Linked DNA regions of Homo sapiens: region 1 is linked to region 2. A link means that fine-mapping ties the variant in region 2 to the expression of a gene that starts in the linked region. Tissue or cell type: stomach. Region 2 holds a variant in brackets; the other region holds the start of a gene. All regions are shown on one strand. Distances are from middle to middle.

Region 1 (9,319 bases), 130 kb before region 2:
TGTGGGATGTGACACTCGGGTCACTGTTGGGGGGATGAAGCTGCCGTATGGCTGAGAATTCAAACCCAACTAATATTTCTTTATCGAACTGCTGCTCTTGGGGAAGGCATTTTCCCAGCCTGCTCTTTGCTTTCCTCCAGCCTCCATCTGCCTGGGATGCCTTTCCTCCCACAGCCCAGGCCTCTGTGGGACCTGCTTCCTTTCTTGCTCCTGCAGTCCATTTCCTGTAGGGCAGCTGCCTGGATGCCCTTAAACTCAAAGGCTCGCCCACCTCTCTACCTGCACCTCCTGTCATAGCTACATTCACTCACTGTACTCTGGTCACAACTGTAGTCTTTCCTTTTTCCTAATCACTTCCAGTCTTTTCCCCCTCTAACCTTTGCTCTTGGTCTTCCCTCTGGAGGTAATATCAAGGCTGGCTCCTCATCCTTCAAGTCTCTGCTCATTTCTATTTCCTCAGGAGCCCTTCCCTGACCATCTTAACCCAAGTAGGCCACCCCCATTACCCTCTCCTTACTGACAGCTATTCAATCCCATTTCCCTATTTTACCTTCTTCATAGCCCTGCTCTCTCTCTCTCAGATATTTCCATTGATTCATTTACTTATTTATTATTTGCCTCCTCTCATCAACATGTAAAAGCCATAAGAGCGGGGACGTTGCTTGCTACATCCACAACTGTATCCTTGGAGTCTGGTAAACCCAGACACCCAAATATTTGTTAAATATTGTAGAATCTGTTGGATTCTATTTAAAACAAAGAAGTTAAAAGCATGGGCCTGGCCGGGCACAGTGGCTCATGCCTCTAATCCCAGCACTTTGGGAAGCTGAAGTGGGCAGATCACCTGAAGTCAGGAGTTCAAAACCATCCTGGCCAACATGGCAAAACCCCATCTCTACTAAACTTATAAAAAAATTAGCCCAGTGTGGTGGCAGGCACCTGTAGTCCCAGCTACTCGGGAGGCTGAGGCACGAGAATCGCTTGAACTCGGGAGGTGGAGGTCGCAGTGAGCCAAGATCACGCCGTTGCACTCCAGCCTGGGTGACAGAGTGAGACTCCATCTCAAACAAACACACAAACAAACAAAACAAAAAGCATGGGCCTGGAAGTAAAGTGGGCTTGTGTGATCTTTCCACCTACCAGCTGGGAGAAGCCATGGCCTCTCTAACCTTTCTTCTCCTTTATAAAAGAATCAAGAGCTCACTCCATGGGAGTTATTAATTTTAGAGTTGTGTTTCCCCGATGAGCCCAAGACCCTGTTGGCAGGCACTTGGTCATTAATCTCTGTATCCACCATGCCTTGAAACATCACCTTACCGCCCCAGCATCCTCTATGTCTTATTACAGGACATGTCACAGTGTCCCAAAGAGTCTATTTATTTCTCTGTCTCCTCCAATATGGTGACTACCTGGGGACACGAACATCTAAGAAACCTAGCACAGTGCCCATTGTAGAATTGGATGCACAGTGATTAAGACTAGCAGGCACCCAGTATGTCTTCATGAAATGTATTTTGAACCAAGTCCTCTTTAGAAAAGACATGAATAAATATATTAATTAGAATATGAACTTTAATACATGAATTAGAGAATAATACCAGATAGTATATGATCAAGTGCTGAGTTACACATATTCAGGTAATAAAATGTGTAGTACAGGTATTGGATGGCAAAGGTGGCCAACAGAGAGCTTCCTGGACCAGGCAAGGGACCTAGGTACGTGAGGTGTGGGGGACAGGGACTGGATCCAACTGGAGAATATAGTTCACCCGCAAGGCAACTACCACTTCTCTCCAGCAATTTGTTGCCATCCTGGAATATGGGTCTGATTGTCTCATATCTTTATTTTATTTACAGACAGAGTCTCACTCTGTCACCCAGACTGGAGTGCAATGGCGTGATCTCGGCTCACTGCAACCTCTGCCTCCCGGGTTCAAGCAATTCTCCTGCTTCAGCCTCCTGAATAGCTGGAATTATAGGCGCACCCCACCACTCCCGGCTACTAATTTTGTATTTTTAATAGAGATGGGGTTTCACCATGTTGGCCAGGCTGGTCTCGAACTCCTGATCTCAAGTGATCCTGCCTTGGCCTCCCAAAGTGCTGAAATTACAGGCATGAGCCACCACGCCCAGCCAAGTCTCATATCTTTAGATTTTTCAAATGAAACTGGGAATATGAATTTTTTAATATCTCCCAAGTTTTCAAATTGTTGACAACAAGCTTAAATTTATTAAACAACTATTTGAAATGAGCAAAGCATGTCTGAGAGCCATGTTGTAATCTCTGACCAAATGTTCCAGGTGACAAGACGGATGTTGAACCCTCAACAGGCATTCATGGAAGAATCTACACTAGACGCCAGCTATCAAAAGGCAACATTTCTTCACTCACTCACTCACAGCCCCATAAAACCAGGAAGCAATTCTTGACCTGTGGCCAAATTTTCCCCTAAGGCATCCATCAAGCATTTATTGAGTACCCACTCAGTGCCAGGCATTCAGATATAAAATGGATCAGGGCTTGTTCCCTCTGAGGCTTTATAGTTGGTCAGTTCAAGATATGTTGTTGAGCCACTATTGTGCACCTGAGAACAGCTCATCAAGACAAAAGGAGACACACCTAGTCAGCTAGGCATTGCTTCCTCACCCACCAGATCTCTGACCTAGAGTGCTGGTAGCAAATTGTCCTACAACTGTGTCCTCTCAGTTCAATTCTCCCATTCCCAGCCATCCCAGTAGCACCTAGGAGCAAAGTGGCCTCCCAAATCAGGCAGTAGCAGAGGTCTCCCAATCTGATGAACATAGGATGACCAGCCATAATCTCTATAAGCCTAACTCTTGTCTATAATATGGTGATCATATGATGGCAACAAATATCACTCAGGTAACAGCAGCCCCCCACACCATTTGCTATCAAAAGGACTGGGGTGTGTTGGATTCATTCAGTCACATGCGCCTGAGGCCAGCCAGTCTGAAATTATTGAAACAGAATCGCACAGCACACAGTAGTCTCATGTTGATCTAACTTATACTTCAGACTTGCTGAAGGACTAATTTCTATCACAGCCCTGCCAATATTGATTGTTTGGACTCAAAATTACATAAGTAGAATGATTTTTATTTTTTTCTCCTAAACTAGAAAGGATCACAGTAGTGCTAGTATATTCCTGTTTCCACTGGCTGGTTATACATGCTGGAAAAAATTAGTCAAAAGAAAGCAACTGAAGACAGAATATAGGTCTTGAATCGCATTCTTAAGTCCCCTACGAATAAGTCTGGGTGCTTGCAGTAGTGCCTAAACTTGTTTATTGTAAACAGAGCTGTTAATCCTCCACCCTCACCGGACCCATTATTTTAAAAAAATAAACAACAACAACAACAAAAAAAACACTTTGGTAGCCTACATTTAGGTAAAAGAAACGAAACCAGTGGAGAGGTGGAAGTGTCCTTTTGTGGTGGAGGTTAGTAGGCATTACTGGTCTCCTGTCACTTCCCTAAGTCAACAGGAAGGAAATATATCCACTAGGGCCTCTGCTAATTTGTTTCTAATTTAAGGACAATTAGAATTAGGATGTAGGAATTAGGCAATTCCTACATCCCCTAACCCCCCACCCCCCCAAAAAAAAGCAGTCAGAGCTGCACGCTTCTCTCACTATCCAACGAACTGGTACCTCTCTGGAAATAACGGAGGTTATGAACTTTGTACTAACTTCCAGGGGTATCTAATAAACAGAGCGGTGGTCTTGGGACCCAGTCAGTGAATAAGTCTTCGTTCTGTTTTATACTGTTTCTTTTCTGCGATTTTCTTTTCTACCCCAAAGTTTCCCACTACTAACTCTGAAAACACCTCTAGGATGACGCACTCTTCGAGCTGTCCTGGTGAAGAATCCTTTCTTGTGACCTTTAGGGCAAGAAATATGTTCCAGGAAAGAAAAGAAACGACTGTTCCTCCTTCTCCAGGTACTCTGGGAAAAAACAGGTCAAAGGGAAAAGGCGCAAACACCAAACTCTCCTTCCCTTTCTCATTTCCACACTGGCAAGTTGTGTTTGCCTTCTAACTTGTCTCGGAAGGCAAGCAGAGCTCACAGCACCAGCCCCAGGCGGCGGGTGGATTATTTACAGGGGGATTTAAACCCGCTCCGGCGCGGGGGCGTGGCCGGGCGGAGTCCCGAGGCCCGAGTGGGCGGGGCGGGGGCGGGGCTCCCGGCCGCTCGGCGCAATGTGAAAAAGACCCGAGCTCGGGGAGTGAGCGCCTGTCTCTTTAAATGCCACGGGCTGCGCTCCCGCCCGGGAGCCCGGAGCCGGATCTACAATCCCGTCCCTCCAGCTCCGGTGCTTGTTGCTCGCCCGGCCCAAGCGGGAGCTGTTGCCGCCAGGCTGCGAGGCTGCCGTCCTCTCCTCCTCGCGCCCCACCTCCCCCGAGAGCTGGCTGAGGAGGGGCAGCAGCCCCAGCTGGCGGGAGGAAGCGCGGTGTGAACAGGGATTGCCCCCCGCCTTCAAGTATCGGGGCGCTACGCAGCCGCGGGGGAAAGACATGCCCCTAGTCTGCCCGCTGCGCTGCCCTCTGCCCAGCCTCGCTGCCGCCCGCGCCGGGAGAGGAGGGACTGCCGAGCCTACACCTTCAAACTCGCCCTAGAAGTCTCGGGGCGCGGCAGGGAGCCCTTCCCCAGGCCCCACGGCCTTCACCTCTCCGCGGGTGAGTTTGTGCAGGTAACCCGAGCCTGAGGGCGGGCGCGGGGGAAGGGCGGGCGAGCCGGGAGGAGGTAGCGCTGCAGGTGAGCCAGGTAGGGTGACTCACCTGTCCAGGTCGCGCTCTGAGATCCTCGCTTGTTCCTCTGGGGATGGATGCGTTGGTGGGGAGGAGGCGTCCCCGGGGCTAGTTAGGGCCCGAGGGTGGGAGGGGAAGTTAGCAGAGGAGGGGGGGGATTGGCGTAAAGTTTCTCTTTCCTTCCCTCTTCCTGCCCAAGCTTGGCAGGTAGGGCGCAGGCGGAAGCAGTAGAAGCTGCTGATGCAATGGGCTTTTGCCAGGGCCAGGCGAAGGGCTGGGGACAGGGAGAACAGGAGTTGCCCAGTCTCCTGTGACCGTGACCTTACAGGTGGAGAAACGAGGGAAAGCTCGCTACACCCGAGACTTCCCCCTAAAATGGCTCCAGGTGCTGAGCCCCCACCGATTCTTTTTCGGAACAAAACGCCCTTTTCACGGAGGGGCTCCTGCATGGCTTTCTTGCCTTCCTCTCCCAACAGGTAGCCTCAGCCCCTGTCCGGGGACCTGTGCAAATGACCCTGGAGTTGGTTTCGCTTTCTCCCCTTGCGGCGGTGTGAACGTGTGTCCGCAGCGTGATGGGCAACCAGGTGGAGAAATTGACCCACCTAAGTTACAAGGAAGTTCCCACGGCCGACCCGACTGGCGTGGACCGGGACGACGGGCCCCGCATTGGGGTCTCCTACATTTTCTCCAATGACGATGAGGACGTGGAGCCGCAGCCGCCGCCTCAGGGGCCAGATGGCGGCGGCTTGCCCGACGGTGGGGACGGGCCGCCGCCGCCCCAGCCGCAGCCCTACGATCCGCGGCTGCACGAGGTGGAATGCTCCGTGTTCTACCGGGACGAATGCATCTACCAGAAGAGCTTCGCGCCGGGCTCGGCGGCGCTGAGTACCTACACGCCCGAGAACCTGCTCAACAAGTGCAAGCCGGGCGATCTGGTGGAGTTCGTGTCGCAGGCTCAGTACCCGCACTGGGCCGTATATGTGGGTAACTTCCAGGTGGTGCACCTGCACCGGCTGGAGGTGATTAACAGCTTCCTGACTGACGCCAGCCAGGGCCGTCGCGGCCGCGTGGTCAACGATCTGTACCGCTACAAGCCGCTAAGCTCCAGCGCCGTGGTGCGCAACGCGCTGGCGCACGTGGGTGCCAAGGAGCGCGAGCTGAGCTGGCGCAACTCGGAGAGTTTCGCCGCCTGGTGCCGCTACGGCAAGCGCGAGTTCAAGATCGGCGGCGAGCTGCGCATCGGCAAGCAGCCCTACCGGCTGCAGATTCAGCTGTCGGCGCAGCGCAGCCACACGCTCGAGTTCCAGAGTCTAGAGGACCTGATCATGGAGAAGCGACGCAACGACCAGATCGGGCGCGCGGCCGTGCTGCAGGAGCTCGCCACGCACCTGCACCCGGCGGAGCCGGAGGAGGGCGACAGCAACGTGGCGCGGACTACGCCGCCTCCCGGGCGCCCCCCTGCGCCCAGCTCCGAGGAGGAGGACGGAGAGGCAGTGGCACACTGATGGGCGAGCTGAGCGCAGAGCTGCGAAGGGGAACTGTTTGCAGTAGCAGCCGCTGCTCCCTTTCTCCCTCTCTTCCTCCCTCTTTTGCCACTGTCTGGGCCCCATCTGGGATTCCTGGGCCCTTTGGAAAAGAGTTGGTGAAATGCGCAGCCGGCTGTGGACGGGGGAGGAGGAAGGGGACAGAGGGAGCAGGTAGGAAACACTTTAGTTGGGGGTGGGGGGCGTCTCCCTCTGGCCCCCTGTCTGTCTTCCTCTCCGCGGTGGAGCAAACTGTGGACTTGCCTGGCACTTAAACCTTGGTAGATCTGGGTTTATAATCGGCCATTCTTAAGCACGTGGGGTTGGGGGAAAGTTCGGAGTACCCATTCCTGCCGTTGCTTCCTATCCTGGGCTTGGAAGAATCCTGGTAGAAAGGCCAGAGTGGGTTTGTGGAGTCGCCACTGCGGGACCAGCACGAAAGCTGCTTGTCTGCTTTGGCGGAGCTGAGCTGTGTATGGGATCCAGGAGGCTGGGGTGATTTATTTTATGGGATTCCTGGAGCGCAGGGCTGGTGAATCCATGACAAGGTCCGGGAGCAGCAGACCAAAACCACAGCAGCCTCCTATTAAGTGTAACAAATAGTTAAGCAAACTCGGGCTACAAACAAAGACTTTGCTACCTCCCTCCTCCACAACCCCCAAGTAATTAGCCTTCTGGAGCTGGCTCTTAGCTGAGGCTCCTGCTACCTCCTGCTCCACCCGCCCCTTCCTAGGTTACAAGTAAATCATTGTCAAGGGCCAGCCAGGGGAAGGTTTCAATTAAGGTTCTGTTCTGCTGCCTTTGTTTCTCCCCTGCTGTTGTAGGCACTTACAGCTGCGTTGTTATGAAAGGAGGGAATAGCCCTTTGTGTCTTTGATCTAATTAAACCTGCTTGGCTGTGTTTATCCGCAGGGCAGGTCACAGATAGGGTTGGCTGTGCCACTCCATAAAGTATCTATTGTGGAAGCAGCCAAAAAGGGCTGCTGTGGCAGGAATTGGTTAATTTCTCCTTCCACTTCCCTTCCTGAATAGTGAAGGGAGCCCTTTTAAAACAAGGCTTTGGTGGTAATCCTGTGATTTTTTTTTCTCCCCCATCCCCTCACTGGCCCATCCCTCTCACCCTCACTTTTGTTCTGCTGGTGGGTAAAATCTTAGGCTGAACACATATTTCAATGGTAAGATACTTATTTTGCTATCCACACTTGATGCAATTGAATTCAAGGTGCAAAGTCTTGTACTGAAGCAGTCTCCTTGTTGCTTGGAGAACACCTCCTTCAGAGCCCTTTGTTAAATAAGAGGGGCGACGTTGATCATAGATGCCACCTGGTTAGCACCGAATCTGACTTTGGTGACAGTCCTAAAGCACAGTTGGTGATTGTGAGATCTGTTAGCGGCAGGCTGAGCAGATACTACTTGGTTTTGCTTGGTATGAGATACTACTGTTTGCTTAGTATGAGATTTTTTCCAGCCTGTCTCTTAAACTCCTGTGACATCTTCAATGATATGTGCCCTCAGTTGCAGCATAGCTTCTCTGCTGCCTATTGCCATTGCTGTCTCAAAAGTTGAGTGAATTTTGAGGCGTCTTTTTTTTTTTTTCCTCTCTTGGGAGTCGTTGTAAACTACTGTGTACAAGTCATTTTGTGATATGATTCTGAACAGTTGGAATAGAATCATAGTTAAGTGGTACAGCCATGGCTATCGTCAGGCCTGTTGCCTGGAGATCTCTAAGTTAAGGCAACAAGACTTAAAGAATTTTCTAATACACTTGTTTCACACATGGACGTTGAGGCCATAGTCTTTAAAAGCTTGGACCTTTGTAGCACCTCAACATGAAAGGGCATTAGCTATGTTTCCTGTTTTTACAGTGATCACCAAACAGATCTTGCCACTTTGATTGTTAAAAATGAACCACATTCTAGCCCTGGTCTGGGACTTTGGAGGGAGATGAATTTCTTGTTGGAAATGTAAATCTAGTGTCCATATTTAATACTCTCACAGCTTTGTGTTTATTCTCTTTGCTCATGGAATAGCAGAACAAGATAAACATGGGTTAAGACATTTAGGAGAACCTGCTGTATCTAACCCAGTTGGATTTTCTTTCATGCTTAACACAGTAGTGAAAATAGAAGGTAGGCCGGGCACAGTGGCTCATGCCTGTAATCCCAGCACTTTGGGAGGCTGAGGCAGGTAGATCACCTGAAGTTAGGAGTTCGAGACCAGCCTGGCCAACATGGCGAAACCCTGTCTCTACCACAAATACAGAAAATTAGCTGGGCGTGGTGGCAGGCGCCTGTAATGCCTGCTACTTGGGAGCCTGAGGCAGAAGAATTGCTTGAAGCTGGGAAGCAGAGGTTGCAGTGAGCCGAGATCGCACCACTGCACTCCAGCCTGGGCAGCAGAGCAAGTAGTAATAACCACCGTGTAGACAAGTGGGAGGGAAGAATAGAATGGCACTGTCCAGCTCTGGGCTAGCCAGATCAACTCCCCCACCCGTCTTCTTCCTCTGTCCCAGAATGGAAAATGATGTATGGTCAGTCACGCTGAAGTATAGCAGCGACTGTGTTAAGAGAGAGCAGTGACTCTCTCTTCTAGAGAAGAGGTTTTCAATAACAGGGCTTGGAAATGAACTAGAATAGGAAATAGATCTTTTCAGATGCTGCTTTCCCATGTAATACAAGCGTTTCTACAGGGTACCAGAGGTGTGAAATATGTGACACTTAAGAACAGTGATTTTTATTGGGAATTTTCTTAGGGTTATTACACTTAAAGCAACAACCAACTAGTAACAGCTCCAGGAAAGGGGAATGAATCAACTCTTGGTTCTTTCCTGAAGACGGCAGTGTTGTGGATAAGTGAGTTTTTAATGCCCTGGCAGTGGCTACATTTGACACTTTAGAAAAAATAAACATATTTAATAATTTTTGTTTCTCCTTAGGAATAAGACTGTAGAACTGTTTTGTACTGTGAATTACGGATGCTCTTTGAAGGAAAGAAATATCGATTCTAATGTTCTTCAGAAGTTCTGGCA
Region 2 (9,319 bases):
TATATCATCATTCCCCATCTGTCAGTGGGAGATGAAAATAACAGTACAATTACACCATACAGTATCTGGGAGGATTAAATGAATTAATACAAGAGCAGTGCTTAGAAGAGTGTAGCAAGTGCTATTACAAATATTATATATATGTATATTACATATGTATTACATATATGTAATATTTGTAATATGTATCTAATATTTATAATATATATATGTATATATATTTTTGGTTTTCCTTAATTTGGAACGTGTATGTACCTGGCTCCAATCCTCCACCTCTCCCATAGTCTAGATGTTTTGCATTCTCCAAATGTGTCCAAACTTTAGCAACGTATTTGTTTACACCTATATTTAGCTAATGTGTGTGTGAAATTACCCATTATGTAAATGGCTTTGGTTTAGTAAGCAGAATATGCGAGGATATGGTTAATGGGAAATTGTTTTGTGCAACTTGGAAAATGGAAGAATCATAAAAGAATCCTTTGGAGACACAGTCTGATCAAGGGATAACCAATACATTTGCAGGTTTTTGTTTTTAAATAATAACCAGCCACTAATGGCCTGGAGCAGAATATTGATTTATCTGCAGCAAGGTAGGCTCTGTTTCCCTGCTACATTGCCAGCTGTCCTCTTCAGCATTAAGCTGCCTCACTTCAATCCAGTATCTGTCAATCCAGTTTTCAAGGAGGAAGCTTTCAAACAGTGAGGAGGGCTGGGCGCAGTGGCTTACACCTGTAATTCCGGCACTTTGGGAAGCCGAGGTTGGGAGGATCACTCGAAGTCAGGATTTCAAGACCAGCCTGGCCGACGTGGTGAAATCCCATCTCTACTAAACATACAAAAAATTAGCAGGGTGTGGTAGTGGGCGCCTGTAATCCCGGCTATTCTGGAGGCTAAGGCAGGAGAATCGCTTGAATGCGGGAGGTGGAGGTTGCAGTGAGCCAAGATTGCACCACTGCACTCCAGCCTGGGCGACAGAATGAGACTCCATCTCAAAAATAAAAATAAAAATAGGCCAGACACGGTGGCTGAGTCTGTAATCCCAGCACTTTGGGAGTCCAAGGCAGGTGGATCACTTGAGGTCAGGAGTTTAAATCCAGCCTGGCCAACATGGTGAAACCCCATCTCTACTAAAACTACAAAAATTTGCTGGGCATGGTGGCAGGCGTCTGTAATCCTGGCTACTCGGGAGGCTGAGGCAGGAGAATCATTTGAACCCGGGAGGTGGAGGTGAGCTGAGATCACGCTATTGCCCTCCAGCCTGAGCAACGAGAGTGAAACCCCGTCTCAAATAAATAAATAAATAAAAATAAACAAACAAGAAACAGTGAAAAGGCTTTGTCATTTTTGTGGATGGTTGCTGGAAGATTTTTCTGTGCTTTATTTGGTAGGAGTCTTTTACTTTTTGCTGAGCTAGAATCTAGCCTGTTATGCACTGTGCACTCAAATTCCTTGGCAGACTGATGAGGCTCTTAAATTCTTTCAAAAAGAAGGCTCTTGAAATTGGCCCTCCCTCAGGTGCCCACTGTTGCCTCGGGCAGAACTCCCCTTCTATCTACGCAAATCTCCCTCTAGACTGGGAGGGCCTGGCCCCGCTATGATGGGTGAGAATAGCATTAATCCGTGTGAGTTGATCATATGGAACAAATCCCTGAAGGAAAGCTTAAAAAAAGAAAAAAAACAAGTGCCTAAAAGGCAAAACCAAAACCAAAATCTTAACACTGAGCTTTCTTCAACATTTTTTTTTCAAAACAAACAAACAAACAAACCCAACAACAACTAAGCTAGGTATGCAGATATCAGCGGAGACCCTTAGTTAAGCCTAAGTGAAAAATTCCTCCATTCATTCATTCATTCATTCATTAACGTATTCACTCAACCTTATTTATTTTGCCCCTCTATGTGCTAGGTATCTTGCTAGACAGCGGGGTGCAGGGAAAGTATACAATTAACTAAGACAAAGATACTTTCAATATTATTTTCTTTATGGAACCTGAGATTGAAAAGCAGATGTCCCAAAGGAAGCCTTGTATCCCTATTCAGTGTGAACCCACATTTTGCTAGAAGTTGTGTTAGACATGGGGAGTATATGGAGGTTATCCCCAAATCTTTTTTTAAATATATTTTTCTCCTCCCTCCTTTCTATCCCCAACTCTTAATGAGGGGGGAGATTTATCATAAAATAGACACAGTGTACATATTTAGGGCCATCTTCTTATGAGGTCACCTATTTCCCCCTCCCTAAGATATCCAGCCTTAACCCTCAGGCCTGTGAATGAGATGTGATATCACACTCAAAATTATGTTGCATTTCATGGCAAAAGGGATTTTGCAGCTGTAGTAAAGGTTATCAATCAGTGGTCTTTGAGTTAAAAGAGCAATTATTCTGGTGGACCTAAGTCTAATCACTTTCAAAGTAGAGATCAGTGACTAAAGAGGCAGTGAGAAAAATAATAAAAAATAATGATTAAAAAAAAAAGACAAAGCTGAGAGTTTCTCCATATGGGAGCAGAAGAAGAAGTCAGAGGGGGAGGCTTTGATGTAAGTGGGGTTTTTCATTGCTGAGATGGGGAGGATCATGGGACAAGCACCACAGGGCAGCCCCTGTGTGCTGAGAGTGGTATACAGCTGTCAGCCAGGGAGAAGACAAGGACCTCAGGCCTACAGTCCAAGGAGTTAAATTCTGCCAGTAAATTCTGGTCAAAGGAGCTTTGAAGCAAATTCTTCCCCAGAGTCACTAGAGAAGAACCCAGCACCAATGACACTTTGATGTCAGCCTTATGAATCCCTAAGTAAAGAACCCAGTTGAGTCTGCCTGGATTTCCAGCCTTCAGACTGTGAGATTATAAATGGGAGTTGTTTTAAGCTGCTAAATTTTTTGGTCATGTGTTATGCAGCAATGAAAAAATGAATAGCTTATCCTTGGTTATTCTGCATTTTTATAGATAGTTTGTAGTTAAGATATCTTAAAACTTAAATGGATCCTGAGAGGCCTATGTGGTTCTTAGCAATTGATAATGAAATTACCTTCTTATATTTGTATGACCCCATTTACAAAGTACTTTTGCATACAATTTTCTTATTTGATTTTCACAGCTTGTGAGGAATCTTTATTTCTAGTTAAAGACAAAGAAAGTGAGAATGGGTCATACTGTGCCTTGTTGATGCTTCCTGCTAAGTGGTAGAAGAGGGATTTGAATTAAGACCCCGGCACTCTCATTTGACCTAGGCATGCTCATTAGAAAATTGACAGGTTACCCTACATACAGGTTCTTTTTCTATCTTGTTTCCTCTTCATTACTAACATCATCATCATCGTTGTCATCAGTGTTGAGGGGATCCTTCTCCTCCTGCTTGTTTACTAAATGCTCATGAACTAAATCATGACAGTGAAAGCAAACTTTTTAAAAAGTCAAAACATGTATTGAACACCTATGATGTACCATGAAACTTACCATTAACAGGGCAAATAGAATGACAAGTGTCCTCTTTGTTGCATGCCACAACATCGGGTTTTGGAAATCCACCAAGAGGATGCTCTGCTAATGCATGTGGAATAGATAAAAAATATAAATAGACTTCTTTTTTGTAGCTAGCTCACAAAATGAAATAATGCATCAATCTTTTTTGTCTCTGTAACTTTTTTAAAAATTCTGTATAAACATTTTTTCTGTGAAATAGTTGGGAAAGAAATATGAATAGTTCATATTTCCAGATCATTCTAGAAAAATGGTTAGGGCAATTTAATTTGTGTTGGAGAGATTGGAATCTAGGAGAATATGAGGTAAGATTCCCAGTGTGTATTCTTTACCAGTCTCATAACCTAGTAAATCTCCCTCAGCCCTCTTCCCACCACACCAATCCCTATAGAGTGGTGGGACTGTGAACCGGACTTGGGAGGGCCATTGAAACTTGTGCTCCCTCTTCCACACAACTCTGCCTTTCATCCCTTTGAATCAATCCAACTGCCCTAGAAGAAGCCTGCCGGATTGAAAACAAAAGCTAAGCCACTCTCGACATAGAGCAGAACATCCCACTACCCTGAGCCATGATTCTTTGCTGCGTTTCTCTTTCCCTCTCTTTAAATTTCACCTCCTGCCCAGGAGTCTTGTAGGATAGAAGGAAATAAAGTATAAGAGTAAGGTGTAATGTGGCTTGAGCCACTGACTGTCAGGCACGCCTATCATCATCTAGTCAGACAATTTAGGGTTAACGTAGAGGGCCTAAATCCGTCTGTCAGTGTCTGTTGCATTCTGCCCCTGTAACAACTGTTGTTATGGGAATGGAATCATGTGAGGGGTGACTCCCTCCCTGCAAGAACACCCTGTGCACAGACGATGCTCTGAGGAGTTATGGAGGGCTTGGAAAGGGCTTGTTTTGTGACCGGGGGCAGCTCTAAAGGCGTGTTTAGGAGGGGTTTACGGGCTGCAATCTGTTGGGGCTTGTATTCAGGCTGAGTTGGCATGGCAGGTCCATTCTGCATTTAGATTACGATTGCATGTGGGGTAGGTGAGGGATAACTTCCCCCTCCCCTTACTGTACCCCCTGCTCAGCAGTCACTCAGTACATCGTTGTTGATAAGCCATTGTCTTGTTGCCTCTAAGTCTGAGGACACCCTTGGTGTGTGGCTCCCATGACTGATTTTTTTTTTTCCCCAGATAAAAGGGACATGGGGCTAGTAATCTGCATCCTGTTTGGTTAATGAGAAAAGCAAGACTTGGTCAACCAGAGACTCTTACTTACAGAAATAACCTATGACAGAAACAAAGAGAGAGAATGGAAAGATTCTGTGTTCGGTATGCATGTGATAAGAAAAAAATAGAAGTCCAAATCCAAAAAAAAAAGGGAAAAATCCATTATGCCTATTTCACTTCTATCAAGAACAGATTTTTAAAAAATCAAAGTCCCATCTGTTCTGTGTCAACATTAGAGA[T/C]TGTACATTGTGTTTTATCAAAGGCAGGTTTGCCATGGCAGTGGGGGTTATATTTTTGGAACGTGCTTGGAAACCCAGAGCCGCTGAAAGCAGAGCCTGGCACCTTGAGGCCTCTCCTGCTGCCTGTGTTTGTGTTCCTCCAGCACTTGATGTTTTAAATTGATTTGTTTGACCAGAGGTCCCTGGAAAAAGAGAGCAGGTAAGGGCAGCTGCCTGGGGCTCCAGAACAAACACAGGTGAGGGCCCAAGGCTTTCAGAAAAACAAGGCAGTTTTTTTTTTGTTTGTTTGTTTTTGGTTTTGTTTTTGTTTTGAGACGGAGCCTGGCTCTGTCACCCAGGCTGGAGTGCAGTGGTGCAATCTCTGCTCACTGCAACCTCTGCCTCCCCGGTTCAAGCGACTCTCCCGCCTCAGCCTCCAAAGTAGCTGGGATTACAGGCACCTACCATCGTGCCTGGGTAATTTTTGTCTTTTTGTAGAGACGAAGTTTCACCATGTTGGGCAGGCTGGTCTCGAACTCCTGACCTCAGGTGATACACCCACCTCAGCCTCCTGAAGTGCTGGGATTACAGGCTTGAGCCACCACACCTGGCCAGGGCAGTTTTCTTGAACGAATTTGTACTCTGCACTGCAGCAATCACAGTCGCTCCGTAGTCTCAAGAGTTCACATTCAAGGGGTGCTGGCTTAATCCATTCAAGAGTTATGCTGGGGTAGAAATCCAGTCCTGGAATCTTCTTTCTGTTCTTCTTCATCTGTTCCCCAGGGTCACCCTCAGTTGGTCAGCTAATAAGGACAGGTAGACTTGCTCCTAACTGCTTAGCTTCCAGGCCAAAAGAGAAGAAGATAGACAAAGCCATCTACCACCCCGGCTGCTTTCTCCCTCTGCCCTGACCAGTGCATCCAATGTCAATTCCATGTCACTCTAGTTACTCTGAGGACAAAACATGATGTTGTGTTATGATTCAAAGGAAAAGGCTCCCATCTCATTCACACCCTTCAATAGTTGTTGCTTTTTGAATACATATTGTTGCTATCAGGATCGTATCGCTGCTCCTGAAAAATAATTCCAGCCTCTTCTGGAACTAGAGGTGGGGAGAGAAGTCCTGAAAGAGATGTTTGTTCAGGTGAGTCACTGAACGACTCCTTCAGTAGCATAGATTTAGAATGAACAGGCATCCATCAGGAAAGTGGTGATTGAGAAGGGCAGAACTTTGGTCATGGTGTCATTCACTGAGATGCCTGGCTTGCAAAGCTGATCTCTGAAGAGGAAAAGAAAAAAACAGTTTGAATTAAAAGCCCAATGACAAAAAGAAGCTAGGAAGATGGGCCAGGATGGAGAAGGGTGATCCAGCTGAAGCCTAGTGACAGACAAGATCAGAAAGACCCCCCCCAAACACTAGCTTAGGTAGGTGGCCCAGGCTCTAAGTGGAAGGGGAAGAGGAGAGCTGGCTTTGGCAAAGTAGTGGCTGAAGCTGTACCCAGGAACACTGGTTAAGCTTTGGAGCCAAGTGGCTAAGTTTGTCATCCACTACAAGGATTCTCTGTGTTCTGATCAATGACTTAGATCAACAAGGTCATCTCAGTAGCAGTAGAGGTGCATCAAATATCAAGTTAGGCAGGATCAGTTTCATAGTGTCACAGTGTGGCAGTGAGAAGAAATTATAGCTGACAGATCAAACCTCAGCTTTTTCTCTTCTTGCTGCAAAGAATCAGAACAACAGCCCTGGCCCCACTCCCCTTAAATGGATAGCCCCACTCCCCTGATATACTTATATAGCCATTGCTGGAAAAGGTCTCAAGTCTGTGTCTTTCTGTTAATAGGCTAGGTGGATATTCCTGTGATGATTTGAAAAAATGACAGAGCTATAGCCATATTTGGAAGCCACACTGCAGCAGGCATATTTTATAATTTCACCTCACATACTCTGAGCTTGAGAGTGAAATTTATAGCTGAAATTTTAGAGTTATTTTAGGAGTAAAGCTTCATTTTTTGCCTTTTTAAAGTAAAAGCTAATCTGCTCTATCCCCAAAATATTTTTATTGGGGAAAGTGTATTCTGAGATATTTCTGACCCCAAAAAGAGTAGGTATGGAAATCTGAGCCACATCTTTCAAAGATACTTTTGTGGGGATTGGTTCAAAACCCCTAGTTACATCTAAAGAATGTGCTGATCATTGCTACATTCCTGGAATTCCCCAAAAGACTTAAGCTGGAGACCCTCCACCAGAGAGAACAGTTCTCATGGTAGAGCCAAGACCCAACCTCTAAAAAGAAAATTCCTGAAGGGATTAAAGGGGCCCTCATTAAGTTCGCATTAGTGAAAACAATTTAACTTGAGGTTACATTAAATCAGGGCACCACTGCTAAATGGGTTAAGGGAATGTTTCTTGGTGCCCCTTTATGGCAGTGGTCAGGGTGGGGGATGGGTAAAGCAGTGGAGAACTGAATAGCCCTCACTTCAGTTTATGATCAATGAACCCTTGATGTGTTCATATTGGAACTAAGGCTGTGATGGGCTTAACGTGTTTTGAGAAATATTTTCTCTGGGCTGTAATGATTGCTTCTTCAGGGGAAGAAGAATGCCTTTTTTTTAAGTTATAATTTTCAATCTAAATGTTTATCGAATAAAGGAAAGAATAAATAAATATCGACTCTGCAGTCAGGAGGCCTGGGTTTCAATCCAAGGTCCAACATATTGACTTTTGTCACTCCGCTGTCACTGCTCTGATAGTGCATCTTATCTTTTTTATCTCCTTGAATTGTAATAATCTAATTTATATGTCAGGTTCCCCAAACTGGCCTGTGAATTCCTTAAGGATAAGGGTTATATCTATTGTCAGGCCTCTGAGCCCAAGCCTGCACATATACATCCAGATGGCCTGAAGTAATTGAAGAATCACAAAAGAAGTGAAAATGGCCGGTTCCTGACATTACCTTGTGAAATTCCTTCTCCTGGCTCAGAAGCTCCCCCACTGAGCACCTTGTGACCCCTGCCCCTGCCCACCAGAGAACAACTCCCTTTGACTGTAATTTTCCACTGCCTACCTAAATGCTATAAAACAGCCCTACCCCTATCTCCCTTAGCTGACTCTCTTTTTCGGACTCAGCCTGCCTGCACCCAGGTGATTAAAAAGCTTTATTGCTCACACAAAGCCTGTTTGGTGGTCTCTTTACACGGACATGCGTGACACCTATGTCTTATTCGTTTCAACAGTTTATTGTTTAGCAAGAGGCCACATTTGCTACAGTTTATGGTAAAAACAAGAGCTCTGGGGATAGATTGCCTGGCATCACATCTTGACTCCAGTTCCTAGCTGTGTGATCTCAGGAAAGTTGCTTAATCTCTCTGTGTCTCAGAATAAAACTAGACAATGTTATCACCAATCTCACAGAGTTATGTGGAAATTAAACCACAAATACATTTAAAATGTTTGGGACAGTGATACATACTCAGCAAAATCTACAACTACTGTTTTCCTTATTATCATTGTTGATAATATATATTTGTCAATAAACGCACCAATACTTTATTCATCTGTTTCCACACTGCTGATAAAGACATACCCAAGACTGGGCAATTTACCAAAGAAAGAGGTTTAATTGACTTACAGTTCCACATGGCTGGGGAAGCCTCACAATCATGGCAGAAGGCAAGGAGAAGCAAGTCACATCTTACACAATTGGCAGCAGGCAAATAGAGCCAGGCAAAAGGGGTTTCTCTTTATAAAGCCATCAGATCTCATGAGACTTTTTCACTACCATGAGAACAACATGGGAGAAACCACCCCCATGATTCAATTATCTCCCACCAGGTACCTCCCACAACCCGTGGGAATTATGGGAGTACAATTCAAGATGAGATTTGGGTGGGGACCCAGAGCAAAACCATATTAAATACTTTATCTCCCTGACCCTGTTTTCTTATGTATAATATAGGGACTATTATATAACAATAACAATAATAACCTGAAGTGCTGTTGTGAGGATCAAACGAGACAATGGCTAACAGTCAAAATGTCTTTTTAAAAAACCACAATGCACTTTGAAACTCTGTTACCGTTATTTCTAATATTAACTGCAGCACAGAAAGAAGTGATTTTCTCATATGTCCACAGTCCGAATGAGGCCAGGCTAGGTTGGAATATTCTTGGTGCTTCCAAGGGCCCAAAGTACTGCTTAGCTGGGATGTAAACTGTCTAAGCCTCTGGGATTACTGTGCTTTTTTCAGTACTTACATTAAGGTACAACCACAGGTCTTTCTGCAAGTGCTACGTTTGAATCAAAGCTGCCGAGCTTTACTGTCCTCATCTTCACTGTCCTCGCCCAAAGGTCTGACAGCTCTCAGAGCTGTCCCTGGCTTTTGAGAGGCTAGATATCAACAGTCAACTCT

Direction of the effects. Alleles are on the strand shown, and positions count from the first base shown. SD is a standard deviation of normalised expression in the study named.
For the expression in stomach of the gene that starts at base 4,252 in region 1, T is the high allele of the variant in region 2 and C is the other (small effect, 0.16 SD a copy in GTEx).

What was found.
Region 1: LRATD2 starts here. The variant in region 2 is fine-mapped to the expression of LRATD2 in stomach (GTEx, PIP 0.93).

Annotation. Positions count from the first base shown.
Region 1 is chr8:126,553,411-126,562,729 of GRCh38, reverse strand. It overlaps LRATD2 (LRAT domain containing 2), which reads left to right and starts at 4,252. Exons shown (of 2, transcript NM_174911.5): 1 at 4,252-4,696; 2 at 5,245-9,319. The coding sequence starts at 5,341. The coding sequence ends at 6,273. LOC105375751 (a long non-coding RNA gene) reads right to left here and starts at 4,854. Exons shown (of 6, transcript NR_188069.1): 1 at 4,799-4,854. RefSeq lists silencers at 4,120-4,299, 6,188-6,307 and enhancers at 4,014-4,850, 5,828-5,977.
Region 2 is chr8:126,421,754-126,431,072 of GRCh38, reverse strand. No RefSeq gene overlaps it. Among named protein-coding and RNA genes, the nearest start is that of LRATD2, 130 kb to the left of the region's middle. RefSeq lists an enhancer at 9,258-9,319. The variant T/C (reference allele first, on the strand shown) is at 4,931.